2 separate regions of the Homo sapiens genome follow, and region 2 is linked to region 1. Evidence: fine-mapped expression QTL. A gene starts in region 1. The other region holds a variant in brackets. All regions are shown on one strand. Distances are between the middles of the regions.

Region 1 (8,346 bases):
TTCCCATCCTTCTCAACACCTAGGTCAGAGAACCCAATAGCGGCAATTCACATTATTCCTCTTCCTCCCCTGTTCTTTTTGACCATCATTTAAAAATCCTTTGACTTATCTTCTGGAGCTTTGTATAGTAACACTCGTTCCTTTCCTTAGATACAAACAAAAGCTTGAGAGGCTCCACGGGCTTTTCCTCCTGGCTGGATGATCAGAAACTTCCATGGTCTGTATCATGCTACACCCTCGGGTATAAATCGGAAACCCCAATCTAGCGCATCTCAACAGACACCTTTTGATAGATGCTTACTTTGTCTTGAAATTGTACTTTATTAGTCATAGGGGAGTAGGCAAATCCATCATTAACAATGATAATAAAAATAGTCTACCAAAGTTGGATAATATAATCATCTTCATAATTCAAAGATAATCTGATATTTAGGATTTTTAGTGCATTAAATAGAAACATATTTACTTGTGATTTTGCAAAAATGTTCGTTCTGAGTTCATGATGTTCTAATTTCATCTATGTAAGAAAGAAGGACAACTGACCTTCCTCCCAACCTGATGTTTGGGAGAAAGGTCATGACACTGGGAGTAGACTTAAGGGTATGATGACTTTGCTGGAACATCGTCCATCTGGCAGAGACAGCTTGACATTCACAATAGGCCTCACCTACACAGCAGAGACTGGCAGAGACAACAGAGACTCCCAGAGGAAATGTCTCCCGTCACTTCTGAGAAAAACATAGAAACCGGAGGGGGGCATTCAATCACAAAACACAATGAATACTTACCGGATTCCCAGGGGTGCTGTCCTTGAATCAAATACTTTGTGAGCATGTCTCACAGAACACATGGAAACTGATTACCTTGGAGTACACCGACCTTGTCTCTCCTCGCCTTAGGCTAGTCTGGTTCTGTCATGTGACGCTACACTATTGGCTTTTCAGGAGTTGTGATGATGTTGTTTTTATTTTTCTGGCTCCTGCCTATGGTGACACTGCAGAGAAAAACCTGTGCTTTCACACTCACCTCTGGTCCCACAGTCTCCAACACTAGACACGTTTATAAAAAGGTCTCTTGGAGGGGGCACATTTCTGACCACTGAGGAAAATATTTATTATTTAATTAACAAGATAGGAAAGTTGAACTTCAGGATTTGGATAAATCAAAACTGATTTTGGTCCAGTGGTTTGGCCACACCCCAGGAAATTTATCCATGGGTCTAACTAGGATACTTTTGGGGAACTATCCTGACTCTCTAGTCATCTTCTATTTATAGTTATCCTTTGAGTTGGCCATGTTCTGGTCTGGATACTCTTAGCCTGAACTACAGTTTATTTCCCTCACAGGTGGGTGTGGAGATGAACAAGTACACTTTTAAACTGCAAGTTTTGAAGTAGAGTTTGAAATCTATTTAGTGGACTACAACTAGCATCTTTATTTTTAATAAAATATAAATTTCAGGGTGCATTGCTTAAAGGATGGGTAAGTATTGTCTCATGACATTTTATTTGTATTTGTACATATGCATATGTGTCATGAGTTCCAGTGTGAAATATATTTCTTATTTGAGGTTCAGGTTTAAAAAGTTCAAGAAATACTGATCTAGTACTTGACTTTGATCTGTAGAGGTTAAGAGCACAAATGCTGGGACCAAATGTTCAAATCTGAATCCTGGGTCCATCATTTGCTAGCTGTGTGACTTTAGCTGAATTACTTAACTTCTCTGTCATAGTTTTCACATATTTCACAAATATGATATGAGAATAGTAATAGTAGCTACCTCATTGGGCTGGTATGAGAATTGAGTATATTAACATTTTAAAGTGCTTAAAATCCTGCCTGGCACATAGTAAGTACCTTAAAAATGTTTGTGGGAAAAACAAATATGTTCCTCAAGTATTTTCTTTTACAGATTGAATCAATACAGCAAAGTTTCTTCCCTATGGATATTTATAATATGGTATATATATATATTTGAAAAAGCTGTCTGTTTTGAGTGGCATTGTATTAATACTAGAATGCCTAGGAAAGACAGCCTTGGAATCAGGTTGCTGGGTTCCAAACCACAGCTCCACTGCTTACTTGCTGTGTGACCTTTGCAGATCCTCAGTTTCTTAATCAATAAAGTGGGACTAATAGAATCTGTTTCACAAGGTTGTTGCCAGGATTAAATGAGACCATCCAGAGAAGATGCAGAGGACTCAGGCGATAATAACTATTGTCATTCTTGCTGTCGGTTATTCAGACCATGACCTTGCTTCTTATTTCCCTATGTACTGAAAAGCAACTCCTCCTCTTCTTTTATGTGCATGGCTGAAATTGTCATTTCAGTTCAGCTCTGGTGAATCAACCACGTAGGGGCTCAGATAAAGACCAGAACTCCTAAATAGGAAAGTAATTGTGAGGCCCGGGTTAAATTCGGACTGCCCCACTGTGCTCTCTCTTTAGCCTTGCTCTCACAACTTAGCTGCCACTAGACTTGACCTTTTGCCTCAGCAGGTCTTCATATCCCTGTGAATAATTCAGAAGCGTCACAATGAAAGCCTGACAACCGGAGTCCATTTTGCAGTATGGCTGTCTGAAGCAAGATAGACAAAACGTATTTCCTTCCCCTTCATCTTGAGGGGAGGAAACTGATCAGGACAAAGGTTGCTGTCCAATATGATGAAGCCCTCTGTGTGATGTATCACTTGTAAATACCATGATAGCATGAAAGGCTCATTAGCTGAAGGGGCTTTCAATTAGGGTCCTCCAGTTTTTAAGGACCTTTGGCAAGGCTGCTCTGACAAAGAGAAATCTAAGATGCTCAAGGACCTGCTACTGTTTTTCTGTAACTCTTTCCTCTTCTCCCTCACACATTTTTCCTGTATCACTTATCACAGCTTCTAAAATGGATAAGGGAGCTATATTATGCAGTATCAATCTCTCGCTTGACCATAAGCTGCTCAAGGGCAGGGGACCTGACTTATTAATCTTTGTATCCCCTGCACCTGGCACACATCTCCATCAACGTACATGGAACTGAGGCGGTTGAATTTACATCCCAGGTCACTGTGCCAGAGCTCAGAATGGGACTAGAGCTGAAGGCAAGAGAGGAATCATTTATTTCCCACTGCTGAGCTGAGTGCTGGCTTCCAAGGAAATTCCAGTCACCGGACAGGCAGCATCCTCCAGCCCCAGGGAAGGACTTAAGGGTACTCTATTGGTACCTTTAGTGAAAGTTCTTTCTCCTAGTTCTTAGAGGTAAGGAAAATGAAGCAACCTGTCCTGTATCCTGTTGGTTTACAACCCAGGGCTAGGAGAATGTACATTGGAAAGTGAATCCTTTTCATCCTCTGCTTAGCTGATCATACCGAGACAGACAATTTGAGTAGGACTACAGAGCTTGGTCCTAATTAAATACAAGGACATACTTTTTTATCTTCCTCCCTATCAAAAGGTTCAAGTCTCAGACTTAACTTTTTAGTTTACAAACAGAAATAAAGACAGGAAATAGTCTTTTAAAAACGCTCCGTGTATCCAAGCCAGGCACTTTGCTGATGCATTATATATATTTGCTCTAAGCCTGCCAAGACCAGTAGTAATGTAGCCATTTACAGTTGAGGAAACTGAGGCCCAAAGAGCTTAAACGGAAAAGCAGAGATTAGAGGTCACTCCCCTTTGGGTCCGCTCACTATACCACGAAGTTTCTGTCCTTTTCCTCCAACACGCTGGTGAGTCCGTGTGCGTGGGTGACTGTGTGTGTGTGGTTCCTTTTTTCCCTATAGAGCCCTCCTTCTTGTCCGTTTTCTTGATTCCACTTTTTGGAGACAAAGTCCAGTTCTTCTCCAAGGTCTCACCATCCGCTCGCCGTCTCCCTCTGACGTCCCAAGGACGGTCAGCCACTCCCCCGCTAAGTTCGGAGTCTCAGCCCTTGGCTCCGATTCTGGGCTCCGCCCCCACCCTCCGGGGACCCCCGCCTGGTCCCTGTCCCCTGCGCCCAGGCGCTCCAGCGGGACCACGGCCCGCGCCCGGGCCCCGCCTCCCCTACCTGAGGCCCTCATGGCCGGAGGCGTCGCAGCCTCCGCCCACCAGCGCGCCTGCCCTGCCATTGGCTCTGCGGGCTGCCCGTCTCCTTGCTCCGTCCCGGAGGCAGGTTTTGCAAGGAGAAGCCGCAGTACCCGCGGCTCGGGTGCAGCGCGGGAGCACAGTGGAGCGCAGATCGCGGACCCGAGCGGGCATGTCCCCGCGCGCGGGAGCCTCCGTTTGCGGCCGGGCCCGGGCGGCTGTGAACTTAGCAGCGGGCTCCTGCGGCCCCGTCACTGCCATGTAGTCGCTGGCGGGGCTCCCTGCAGCCCGGGAGCGGCAGTGCCAGTGAGCCTGAGCCCAGGAGCCCGCGTCTTCCCCGGGAGGCGCTGAGTGCGCGCCGCGCCCCCGCCGCTCGGGAGGCACTTTGGGCCAGACAGGGAAATGGGGGAGAAAGTTTCGGAGGCGCCAGAGCCGGTGCCCCGCGGCTGCAGTGGCCACGGCAGCCGGACTCCAGCCTCTGCGCTGGTCGCCGCGTCCTCTCCGGGTGCTTCCTCGGCCGAGTCCTCCTCGGGCTCAGAAACTCTGTCGGAGGAAGGGGAGCCCGGCGGCTTCTCCAGAGAGCATCAGCCGCCGCCGCCGCCGCCGTTGGGAGGCACCCTGGGCGCCCGGGCGCCCGCCGCGTGGGCTCCGGCAAGCGTGCTGCTGGAGCGCGGAGTCCTTGCGCTGCCGCCGCCGCTTCCCGGAGGAGCTGTGCCGCCCGCGCCCCGGGGCAGCAGCGCGTCCCAGGAGGAGCAGGACGAGGAGGTGGGCCTTTCCCCAGCTTGCCCACTCTGGGTTCCGGCAGCCGGGCGACCGTAGTTTCCCATCCTGCGCACAGGCAGTGGGCAGGAGAGCGCTGTGGCCTGGAGATAGGGAGGGACCCCAAGCGCTCTGCCCCGAGCACGGGACAACGATAGTTAGGAGCCCCCCTGTGGGTTATTGACTTCCCTGTGGCTGTTACCCCCGTGTGTGTGTCTCAGTGTGCTGCCTGATGGTGTGTTTTTAAAATGTCAGAGAAGCAAACTCCTTCGTGTTTGTATCTGACTTGGTTGATCTGTGAAAGGATGCGATCTGGACATCTGGCGTGTCCCCACAACTCACCTCTGATTCTCCAAAGTGGGCGTTGTTTCCCACCGAAGCGCTTGGGCCGAGGGGCAGGGAGTTGAGGGGGAGAAATGGTGCCTTGGGGGTAAGAGGCAGGAGTAGGGTGGGGGGCAGCGGTAGCCGCGGAGTTGCCTGCGGAGGTTTCAGTGGCGCCAGCCCCCTGGGATCGCCCGCGGGTGGTTTTGGCGCGTCCCCGCAGCGTCGGTCCTCTGGGAGAAGAGGACTCCCCGCGCTCCCTCGGTGGCGCTGGCGTGCGCGCCTGCAGCTCCCGTTCAGACTTGTTTCCAGCTTGTCCAGATGAACGCTTGTCACCAAACCGAGTACAGATCGTCTTACCTTTTGCGGGGCGGAGCGGGGTGGGGGATCTGTATCTGCCCAGTTTCCTGGAAGGATGTTCCTCCAGAACTTGTGGGTCGCTTCCTGACACACTGAGCATAGGACTCTGGTGTCCTTCTGGCTGCTCTGTCCGGCTTATTTTCTGCTTTTGGAGGACAGTTAAAGAAGTGTACAATTCTTCACGTCTCAGAGCCAGACTCAGTTTAAAAAAAAAAAAGATTGTTTGCTTTGGACGTTTCTTGTGGGGAAGTCATCTTGATCAGGCAGGGCCACAAATAAAACATCACCTTAACATAGACTTATTGTGAAATTAATTCCTGAGTGCCAGTGTTGTATTTTCCTCATCTTGGATGGGGTTAGCTTTAGTAAATAATTGCCTTTGTCCCTTAGAGTAAGCAATCAGAGGCCCCCAGCCTGGAAGCAAAAACTGGATGTGGCACAAGGTTGAGAGGAGGCGAGTCCTAGCTTGGCAGAGATGGAACAAGCCTTAGCTGCTTAGCTGGTTCTTGGCCAAGCCACTTGCAGTAACCATGACCCATTCCCTAATTCCCCTAAGCCCCCATTGCAAGGATCCTGGATAAGGGTCTGGAGGCCTGCTTTCTAGAACTGCCTCTGCTACTGAGTGGTGAGACCTTGGGTATATCATTTCACTCCTCTGAGGTTCAGTTCCATAATCTGTAAAAGGAGGAGCTTCAAGGTAAATTTCATTTTCACTCTCATACTCCTGTTTCGAATCAGGAATTTCAGATGAATCCATAGCTCCAAATCGATCCTAGCGGCGGGATGTCAGGAGTTTGCTGAGTTCCTCACCCACCGCAGAGCTACATCCTAGCGGAGATGATCAAACCCTGTACTGCCCCAGCCTTCCTCGCTGATTACATCTCCCTTTCAAGGTGCGGGGCATGTGCCACGTGTTTGCCCCTTAACTTCTGCCTCCACTTCTACAGATGAGCACACTGGCATTGGGAAGCTGGGGGTGTACCCTAACTTAATGATTCACCAATAGTTCCTAATTTAGTATTGCCGCTGGTGGAGAGTAGTTAGTTGCTTTATGTTTTCTATTTAGCTAGGAGGGTGCTCCATGGTAAGTGACATGGTCTTGCAGGTGGTGGGGAGGGATGTTGTCGGGGAACTTCTGATCCCCATTCTGTCGCTGATTTATTGCCTGGCCTCAGGGTGACAGTGCTTTGCTTTGTTGGAAGTGGATATAATGATAACTTATTTCACAGGCAATGCAGTGAGAACTGGTTGATTGAAACACATTTTGGAAAGTGGAATGATTAAATAACATGGGTCACTATTTGTGAAATCTCAGAATTGCGTGTAAACTGATACAGTATTGCAATTTATTATGTAACTTAACCTGCGGCATGGGATGCTGGAAATTTCCCAGGAGCAAAATCTTGACTTGCTCTGAGAATTTTAAAGTGAAACGAAAACCAAACCATGTAGTTTTTTCCCCTCTTATGGAGTAGAGGAGTGATAATCTTTGTGAAAGGGGTTGAAGTCCAGTGTGCATTTTCTGGTTCTTACACTGGTGATGGTATGGGGCAGGGGGGTGTTCACCTTCACTGTTTGTGGGGTTGTGGGCCTCTTTAAGGAGCAAATGAAACCTCTTTTGCCCCTCTCCTCAAAAAGCACACCAGAGGATTCGGGAATGCTGGGTGATAAACACTCATTTTAGTGGAAAGACGTGGGTTTGATTTCTAGCTCTGCCACCTTGACCAGTTGTGGGATTGTGGACCATTCAACTTCTGCAAATCTCAGCTTTCCTACCTTTAATGGGAATAATAGCATTAGAGTTAGGCATTTTACACATGCTATCTAATTTAATCCTAGCACAGTAGCTAACATATAGCATCAAATGCCAAGTAAGTGTAAGTAAATATTAATTTTTTAAGGTCACTTTTGATGACATTTTGCAAAATAGGAATACAAAGTTGGGTTGTCCTGTTATTTTATTGCTGCATAACTTATATGCTACCTACTGTCAGAGAATCGGAGGCTATGTCTACTTAGCTTATACTCATAAAATGGGAATAAACTGGGAAACAGTTTTTATTTGTCTCCAGTTATTTTGTGACAAGGCGATGTGAGTGTAATGTTATACTGTAGAAAGGCACTGAGTATAAAGCATTAAAAGGCTTGTGTGCAACTCAAAAAATGGAAAGAGGTTCATTTAAAATTGTTATGTCTAGCTTGGGAAATTGATTATTTCTAAAGGGGTGTGTGTGTGTGTGTGTGTGTGTTTACAGTAACATTGTATCAAATTTTGAAAAGCAGTAAAATTCAAGCTTCTAGTATATTAGGGCAGTGCTAATTTCTTTGGCAACCTTGTTAAAACTGTTTTGAATGTATTTAGTAATGTCAACAGAGTTTGACTTATTTTTTACTTTATCTTACTGTCAATAATTGTATAAACTTCCAAAGTCTCACACACTTAAGTCTACCCTTTAAGCTTTTGGTGTCTTAAAAACAGTAGTTTAATGTGACAGTAATGGTAGTTTTTATGTCAAACACATGACAGCTAGACATACAGCATGACTTTTGTTTAAGGAAACTGTATCTGACTTTGGCTCTTTCCCCAAACCTTTGAATTTGGGGTCCGTGTGTGTTGAGGAGGTAGCACACTTCATTTCTGAGAGTTAACACTGTCTAGATTGAAGGACTGTTCCCCTGACAACATCTCTGAGATTTGCCTTTAGGCATTCTGCCTTGTCCTTTTCCAAAACACCCTGTGATGACTTTAAGAAAGTACTTGGGTGCTGTTTGGTAACTGTCTCAGCAAACTGGCCGAGGGCAGGAATTTTGTCTTTGTACGCCTAGCATGGTACAGTTAATATATTAGTAGGTGCTCAG
Region 2 (8,346 bases), 430 kb after region 1:
GTACTCAGGTTTTTTTTTAAATTTTGTCCAATTACTGCTCCATCTCTTCTTCATTCTGTTCATGTCTTTTATTATTTTTTAGGATAGAAAAAAATGTTTAATTGTGTACACATACAATTTACCATCTTGGCCATTTTTAAGTGTACACTTTAGTAGTGTTAAGTACATTTACAGTGCTGTGCAGCCACAGAACTCCTTTCATCCTGCAAAACAAACTCTACTCATTAAAGAGCAACTCCCCATTCCCCCTCCCCCAACCCCTGGCCACCCCCATTCTAACTTTCTGTCTCTATGAATTTGACTACTCTAGGTACCTCATTTAAGTGGACTTATGTAGTAGTTGTCTTTTTGTGGCTTGCTTATTTCACTTAGCACAATGTCCTCAAGGTTCATCCATGTTGTAGAATGTCTTGGAATTTTCTTCCTTGTTTCTGGCTGAACAGTATTCCATCCACACACACGATGGAACACTGTTCAGCCTGAAACAAGGAAGATATATATATATATCTATATATATATACACACACACACACACATACATATAGATAGCTATATATGTACACACACGATATATATCTATATGTATACACATACATAATCGTGCAAGCATATATATGGAAGGTGCACTGTTGTGCTCAAAATGTGGGGTGTGTATATATAGATATATACATATCTATATATACACATTCAAAAGACTTTCAAATCTATTTTCTAGAAAGGATTGCGTTATCTTCATCCTAAGTAATGTGTAAGTACTATTTGCAGTCATTGAGGATAATCCTCTTTGGTGGTAAATAGGTGAACTGATTTTCTTTTTCTTAGATGTTTGAGTTTTAACACTTAATATCTAAACTTGCTTTTGAATACCTTGAATGAAGAAACTGATAGGTCCACACATACCGATGATGACAAAAGATTGTAAGAAGGAAAGGGATGATGCATGTGAGAACCCAGTGCCTCATTCAGTGCCTAGAACATGCTTCCATTTTATGTTCTTTCTTTTGGGGATCCCATGTTTTTTTTTTTATTTTTAGCTAAGGTCATCTGGAATGAAACAGCGTAATGAGATGAGCCCTGAAGTATGACACCAGAGATCTTGTTTTATATAACTGTGTACCCCACGAATATGTACAATTATTATTTGTCCATTAAAAATAAGAATTTTAAAAGAGATCTTGTTTCTGTTCACGTTTCTGCCACTAACTAGTTGTGTGACATTGACAAGACATTGTGGATTCTCTCTTGCTTACCTGTTTTGTTTTTTTATTTTTTAATTAAAGATTCCATTGGCAGTATAGTAAAGCCTATGGATGTAATTTCAGAATAACATTTTTAAATGCATAACATAAGATACGTAATATTATAAAGGAAACCAATTATAATGAAAGAGTCATGAACACATTAAAATATTTGTGATATATGTGGTTCTTTATTAGCACATCAGATATCAAGATCTAGAGGCATGTCTAGTAACTACCGTAACTTTGAAGTGATAATGAATACAAATAAGTTTTTAATATATCTGCAACAACTGTTAATGTGATATGGAAAATACATGGCTAATACTATGATGATAGATGTATAAATGAAGGAAATGTTACATTTCAGTTTCTGGTTAGTGAAAATAATAATTTTTTTAAACAAGCCAAGTTAGTGGACCCAGTGAGTTCTATTCATAGACATCTTGGAAGTCCACAGACTCCAGGTCAGAAGTTCTCTGGTGTCTCCAGTGGGTTAAACACTAGTAGTGGAGTGAAAGGCTGACCCAGGTGGCCTCTGGAGTTTGTTATGAAACTTGATTATCAGGGGCCTGGCATAATTGAGGGGATGTTATACAAAAAAAGTAACCTTTGATTTACCTGGTCAGCACTCCAGTCAGAAAAGTGCTGGCTTTCATCAGTTATGTTTAGCTAGCATGTAGCTAGGAAAGCCCGGAGTATATTAAAACAAAGAAGAACTATAGGAAAGGAGTAGAGTAATTATCACCCACATCATGTGCCTCTGGAGGGCCCCAAGGCCCGGACATGTGGAAATGTGACTGTGTCCCCTGTACTTCGTGTAGTACTTTAAAGGAGTCTGTATCTGTCAGCATCTCACCATTCCTTTGTCATAACTGCATGCTTTTCCCTAATTAAATGTGGCCATGAATGTATAAAGATTGTGTACTGCACCTACCTACTTGTCAGGCTTGAATTGGTGCTGCTCAGCTGGAAAGTAAAATCTTTGAAATACAAAAAAGCTAAAGAATAATATTGATAAAACACTTCTCATCTGTTAGTCTTAAAGCAGTTTTCTTTCCTAGAGTTTGTAAGTGTTTTAATGATCAAGGTCTAAATATACAATGAATAAGAGAAGTGGCGAGCAAAATTTATCCTAACCTTTTCAGAGGAGTGAAGACATTTCTTCCCATTACCTATATACCTACCACCTTCGATGCTACATTTTAGAGGGGAAAAAATATTTTAAGAGGCAAAGCCTCAAATGCTTTTACATGCCGTGCCACTTGCCTACCACAACAGCATCTCACAACAGTTTCTAATGGAGAGGAGCATTCTTTTTGGCTTTACAGCTGCTGCATAAATGCCCCTGTGTTAATTTGGGTACAGACTCACAGCCTGATAGACTGGGGAGTAGAGCAAAGTGCAGAGATTGATTTGTCTATCTGCTGGTGAAATGTAATTCATGCAACCATCAGCAGAATGCTTTGTAAACATGGAATTATTTTCAGGTTATAAGATCCTCTACTAAATTAGATAGGAAGCTTGAAGCATAGACTGTAAGTAATTTTTCCTCCTTTAGTTGTTGTTATGGATCAATACATTTTATTGACTCTTCTAGGGTTTCATACAGTTTTCTATCATGGTCATTTATGCTAATCAGCATGAGACAGAATAATTGTAAATCATAGCCCCTTAGGCACACTTCTGGAATATTTGAGACCACAGAATTCTGTTTTAAAAAGATGGAAAAAACAATTCATTTTTTAATGACTCATGGAGCCTGACACAGATGTGGAGGGCAAAGACTCCCTCCCTCCTTATCTTTGGGCCTCACCTTATATTAATATTTTAATTCTTAATGCAGATGAAAGAGAAACTCTTTGAAAAGAAATCAGGTTTAAATTAGCCAGTTACCTTTATTTGTAAAAATCCAAATATATCATGTTAAATATGGAAGGTAGGATATAATATATCCTATTTTTAATGATTTTACATAAGATTATTATCTTCAAGAACACATGTTTATATAATTATTGTAAAATATCAGAGTTATTGCTACAAAATATGTAAGGATATTTATCTACATTTTTAATGATACAATTCAGAGAATTAGTGTAGAAGACAGCAGTTTTATACTTTAATGTTGTACTAAGAAAGGTGATTTGAGTGCTGTTTGTATTTATTGGCAGTACTGAATTCACTGAAATATATAATTATTACAAAAAGAAAATAAACTGTATCTGTCTTGACCAAGAGTTCATACAGATGTTTTTTATTCTCATCAGATTCCCAACTATGCTGTGGAAGCAAAGTTGAATCTAGCCAAGTACCATATCTCTGTATGCACTCACAGATGAACGTAAATACACGTTGTGCACATAAGGATCTGGAGGGCTAATGATACCTCCTGGTACAACTGCAAAAAGAAACATAGTTTAGTGATGGAGTCTTAGACATGGTTCCTGAATGCACAGTTGATTCTAACCATAGAACTGCATCAAAGATGGCAGAGCTTCCTTCTAGTTTTCTTCTGATAATTCCAAATATAAACTTTACCTGTCAGAGTAAAAAGTAGAAGCTGTGCATTTTATAAGAATAAGCCTTTTCACCATAAGGGTTTTCAGTCTAAAAACATGTTTGTGGATTGTTAATGAATAGAGTTGGATGAAGAAGGAATTTTTTGACTTCTAGTCTGTATTAAGCAATTCAGATATGAAATATCCTTACTTCCTGGAAGCTACTCTTTAGGATAGGATCTGTTGTTATAACCACCTCTAAGTTTAAGATATGCAGAGGAGATTTCACTTGGAGATGAAGCTTGGAATTTGGAGCTGAGTGTAGTTGACTCTCCATCCTCTGCATTTATTTGTTCATTAATTCAGTAATATCAGTTGAGCACCTTCCATGTGTTAGGGATTGTGCTGGAGAGGCAGTGGTGAAGGAGACAGATGAGTCTCTACCTTCTTGAACGCTTGCAGCTTTATGGGAAATGCTGTGGAGTTGGGTGTAGAGACAGGAAAACACAAAGAAGTAACAGAATTTACAGTATCATGTGTGAGTATATGTCTGTCTTACTCCTTCTTAGCCATGCATGGTGGGGATTATAGTGAACTTTGAGGGCATCCAGGAGACACACAACAAAAAAGTGGGCTGTGAAAGAAGTAAACAACCTTGATGGGTGAGAGATCATTGAAATGTGGAAGACTGTAATCTAGGCAAAACAACAACAACAACAATACAAAACAAATAGCTATCGTACAGAGACTCGAGTGAGAGTTGAGGAGCAATTCCATTAGAGTGGCAAACAGGAAATGTACTCTGAGGGTAGGAGGTGCCACTGAAGGGTTTTGTACAGGACAATAAGATCACATTTGCCTGTAGGAAAGATTCCTAGCAATGAGGGATTGAACTGGAGTTGTGCAAAAAGGA[T/G]TCCAGGATCTGAGTTAGAGCAAGCATCACGGGCTTCTGGGGCAGATGGTGATGATGCCACAAGCAGGCTGGTGACCGTGAGAATGAAGGGAGACGCTCAGGAAGTGGATTCTGAAAGACTGGATGACTAACTGAGTGATTAGAGTGAAGAAGAACTAAAGTGGAGGTTGTGCTCATAGTTCTGCTTTAGCCTGTTAGACAATGGTACCAATTACTGAAATTGGGAACACAGAAGCAAGACACGTTGGATGAAGATGATATCTTCAGTTTGGGATTCATTGGACTGGAGCTTCTATAGACACACCCAAGTGGAGATGCTGGATATGTGGATCTGGATGGAAGGCAAGAGAGTTCCAGATTGGGGATTAAGAGTCATCCACCGCCGGGCATGGTGACTTATGCCTGTAATCCCAGCACATTAGGAGGCCCAAGTGGGTGAATCGCTTAAGCCAAGGAGTTCAAGACCAGCCTGGGCAACATGGCAAAACCCCATCTCTACAAAAATAAAAGATAAATAAATTCGCTAGGCATGGTGTCATGTGCCTGTAGTGCCAGCTACCTGAGATGCTGAAGTGAGAAGATCACTTGAGCCTGGGAGGTTGAGACTACAGGCAGCCATGATCACGTAACTACACCCAGCCTGGGCGACAGCACGAGACACTCTCTCAAAAAAAAAAAAGTCATATACATAAAGATTAATGAAGAGTGCCAAAGGTAATTAGTGTTGAATATTTATTTTCCAGCAGCTTCAAGTATTTATGGTCTGCTTAGACCCAGGTCAGAGTCTAAGGTTTCTGGCCCTCTGCATTCCCAAGAGAAATGGAGGTGGGGATGGGGAGACAATTTGTACATGATTTTAAAAGTGTTTTCTAGGAAAGACAAGCCATAGAGCCATCCTTATACTTATGTTTCCCATAGGCATATATGTTTTGTTTTACTTTGGAGTAATATTCGGGATGTAAACATCTTTGCTTGTAGGAGGATCAGATACCTACTGAAATGTCATCAAACTGCTAGCATGTTTCTTTTAGTTAAGTATATTGAGGGACCTTACCATTCTGTGTATTTCATCTCTAAGAAAAAGGAAATTAGGCTGGAGAGGTTTGAAAGAAATTGAGCAGGAAATTGGGGTTGCAAAATTCTATGGCAAGGTGATGGTGTGTTTTGATTGTTGGGTTTTGTTTGTTTATTTTTTGATAAGAACAAAAAGTGTTTGCTACTTAGAAAACCTTTATTGGCAGCATGATTTCTGTGTCCATGAAGAATGAAAGTGAGGTGGATGGAATAGTAGGAGTTTTAGAAGGAAAGTACATTTCCTCATGTGAAAAAGGTAGGAGAAAGGAAAATATAAATTCATTGCTGTTGACTTTATAATTTGATATTAACAACATTATTGAAATTGCTGTGGACTTGAAGTTTGTCCTGTTTACGAGTTTGCACAAAGTTAATCCTAATTATTCTGAAACTAAGACTTATATATTATTTTTATACATTTGAATTTCTCTAAATTATATACTTAAATTTTGTTTAATGAAATTTTTTCAATTAAATAAAAATGTATGTTTAAGGTTGAAATTTACTAGTATTTCACATGATTCCTTGTTAAGTGTTATATATATTTAGGAGCATCTAGGAAATTGTAAAACCAAATTTCAAATTAAATGTGTATTTTTATTATCTAAATATTTTGTATACATATGGGTCATTCACATCCTTATAGGTTTTTATTTAACAAATCATTTCTCAGGGCAATACAACATAAAGGCTCTATAGTTAATTTAGTAATAGCATGGTGTGATACCTGTATTCCGTATCTCTTTTGTTTTATAGTGTTACAAGCAATATTTGATGGTTTAGGGTTGTTTTCTTTTTAAACTTTGGCTTGAACCAGGTTAGCACTGAATGAGAGCTCTGAGATGACCATCTGATGTTTATTAGATAGCTGTGGTAAAATGACATAATCATCATTTTGGTTTTGAAGAGGTAACCATAGCACTGGTGGCAAAAATAGATCATCTGAGTGACATTTTAACTCAGAAAATAAATACCTTTTCATTTCTGTACATCACCATTCCAGAGCAGGCCTGGGGCAAATTGGTCAGAGTCCTAAGGGGTGATATTTAAAATAAGATCTGTTTTGTATTAGTAATGAGGTTGTGGTTTTAAGCCCTTCCATTCTGTTGTGTAGTTTCAAGGGAGTTTAGTTTAAAACATTAAAACCATACAAACATTGTATATTTGGAACACCTAACCTCTTCTAAGTGTTCTGTACCTCAGCACTTTTTTTATCTTGGGTGTTTGTGTCACTCTCTTACAACGTCTACTTTTATAAAGCCTTGGGTATCTCAAACGCTATGTTTTTATTTAGTATTTTAGTGCAATAGAACATTGTGCTAAAGAGGCCAAGGTCATGGGTGTTGATTCTATGCCAATTAACTGTTATGGTGAAATTTTTTTCCTGTAGCTTTGGCTGGTATTTCAGAAGTTGCTAGAATTTGACTACTTTTGTTTAAAGTGTGGATAATGCTGCCTAACTCATTAACTGTCCTGTAAAAAGTAAAATTGATGTCTATTGGGGATAACACTTCCACATAGGATATTTTTTTCCTATGTGAAAAAAGCATTTACTTTCATCTGTGGATGATCTCTGACTAGACTAAAATGTATGCGTTTATTAAATAGATTAATATCAGTTCCTGGTGGGTGGAGATTATCAGTCTTTAAATTGCTACTCTTTGCTGCTTTCCTCTGCATAGATACAGAGAATCTGTCAGCTCCCTGGCTAGTCCAGCAGAAAGCCCTGGGCATTTCCCAGAGTTGATGGCAGAGGAGGGTCGTCTCTTGTCGCCTTTTTAGCCTGATTTATTGCCCTTGAATTTTTTAATAAGGACATATTTTAAGTTCTGTCTAGGGACTGAGGGCTTGGATCATTCATGCAGTGAACTTTGAATAAGTTGGAAAGATTGGCTGGGCCCTGTTATCATAATGGATGGTGACTATTTGACATTTACAGTGGTATGCTCCATTTGCACTAAAATAAATGAATTTGTATTTAGACATGATTTGCAAAATTTTTCCCTATCACACTTAAAGTAGAGGTTATTTGCATTCAAAGTTAAACACTGAAAAACTGCGTACAGACTTAGTGAAGATTTGTAAAATACATGTTAATTGGCATAACACCATTAAACCTGATTGTGCTGATCTGTTAGCTGGAGAAAGAGCAGGAATCATCTTGTTCCCATATCCCTACAATCTAAATTGTTAGAGTTTCTAAAGATGGGGGACTTCTCTGAAGTGAATATTCCTGTCAGGCCTGTTGACCTTACTGCCTAGTGACCTATTCATAGGTCAGGATGGCAGTTCTCCCTGCTGGGTCAGTTTTTATTCCACCTTCTTTCGTGAGAGAACTAATTTGTACAGCTCTTACAGGTGGAGAACTAGATCACTGGTGTCCTTTACTGCCTCTGATATATGTGGAAATGAATCAGTGGAAAATTCAGTTACTCATCGTGACCTACTTCTGTCACTTGCGTTGAAGGGGTGCTTATTTGTCAAAAGCAATCTGCCCCCCTTCCAAAAACTCTTGCTCCATGGCTGCTTTAACTCATTTAATCTATAGATTCTTTCAGAATGTTTGCAGTTGCCTAAATCTTTCTGTGAATTATCCTGCTGTACCTGTAATCCATTTTAGATT

Alleles and levels. Alleles are on the strand shown, and positions count from the first base shown. SD is a standard deviation of normalised expression in the study named.
For the expression in regulatory T cells of the gene that starts at base 4,187 in region 1, T is the high allele of the variant in region 2 and G is the other (moderate effect, 0.57 SD a copy in Schmiedel 2018).

What was found.
Region 2: its variant is fine-mapped to the expression of MAST4 in regulatory T cells (Schmiedel 2018, PIP 0.93).

Annotation. Positions count from the first base shown.
Region 1 is chr5:66,592,207-66,600,552 of GRCh38, forward strand. It overlaps MAST4 (microtubule associated serine/threonine kinase family member 4), which reads left to right and starts at 4,187. Exons shown (of 29, transcript NM_001164664.2): 1 at 4,187-4,812. The coding sequence starts at 4,450. RefSeq lists silencers at 3,823-4,022, 4,633-4,772, 4,783-4,932.
Region 2 is chr5:67,023,818-67,032,163 of GRCh38, forward strand. The region is part of intron 4 of MAST4 (microtubule associated serine/threonine kinase family member 4); the gene reads left to right. Among named protein-coding and RNA genes, the nearest start is that of MAST4-AS1, 24 kb to the left of the region's middle. The variant T/G (reference allele first, on the strand shown) is at 4,650.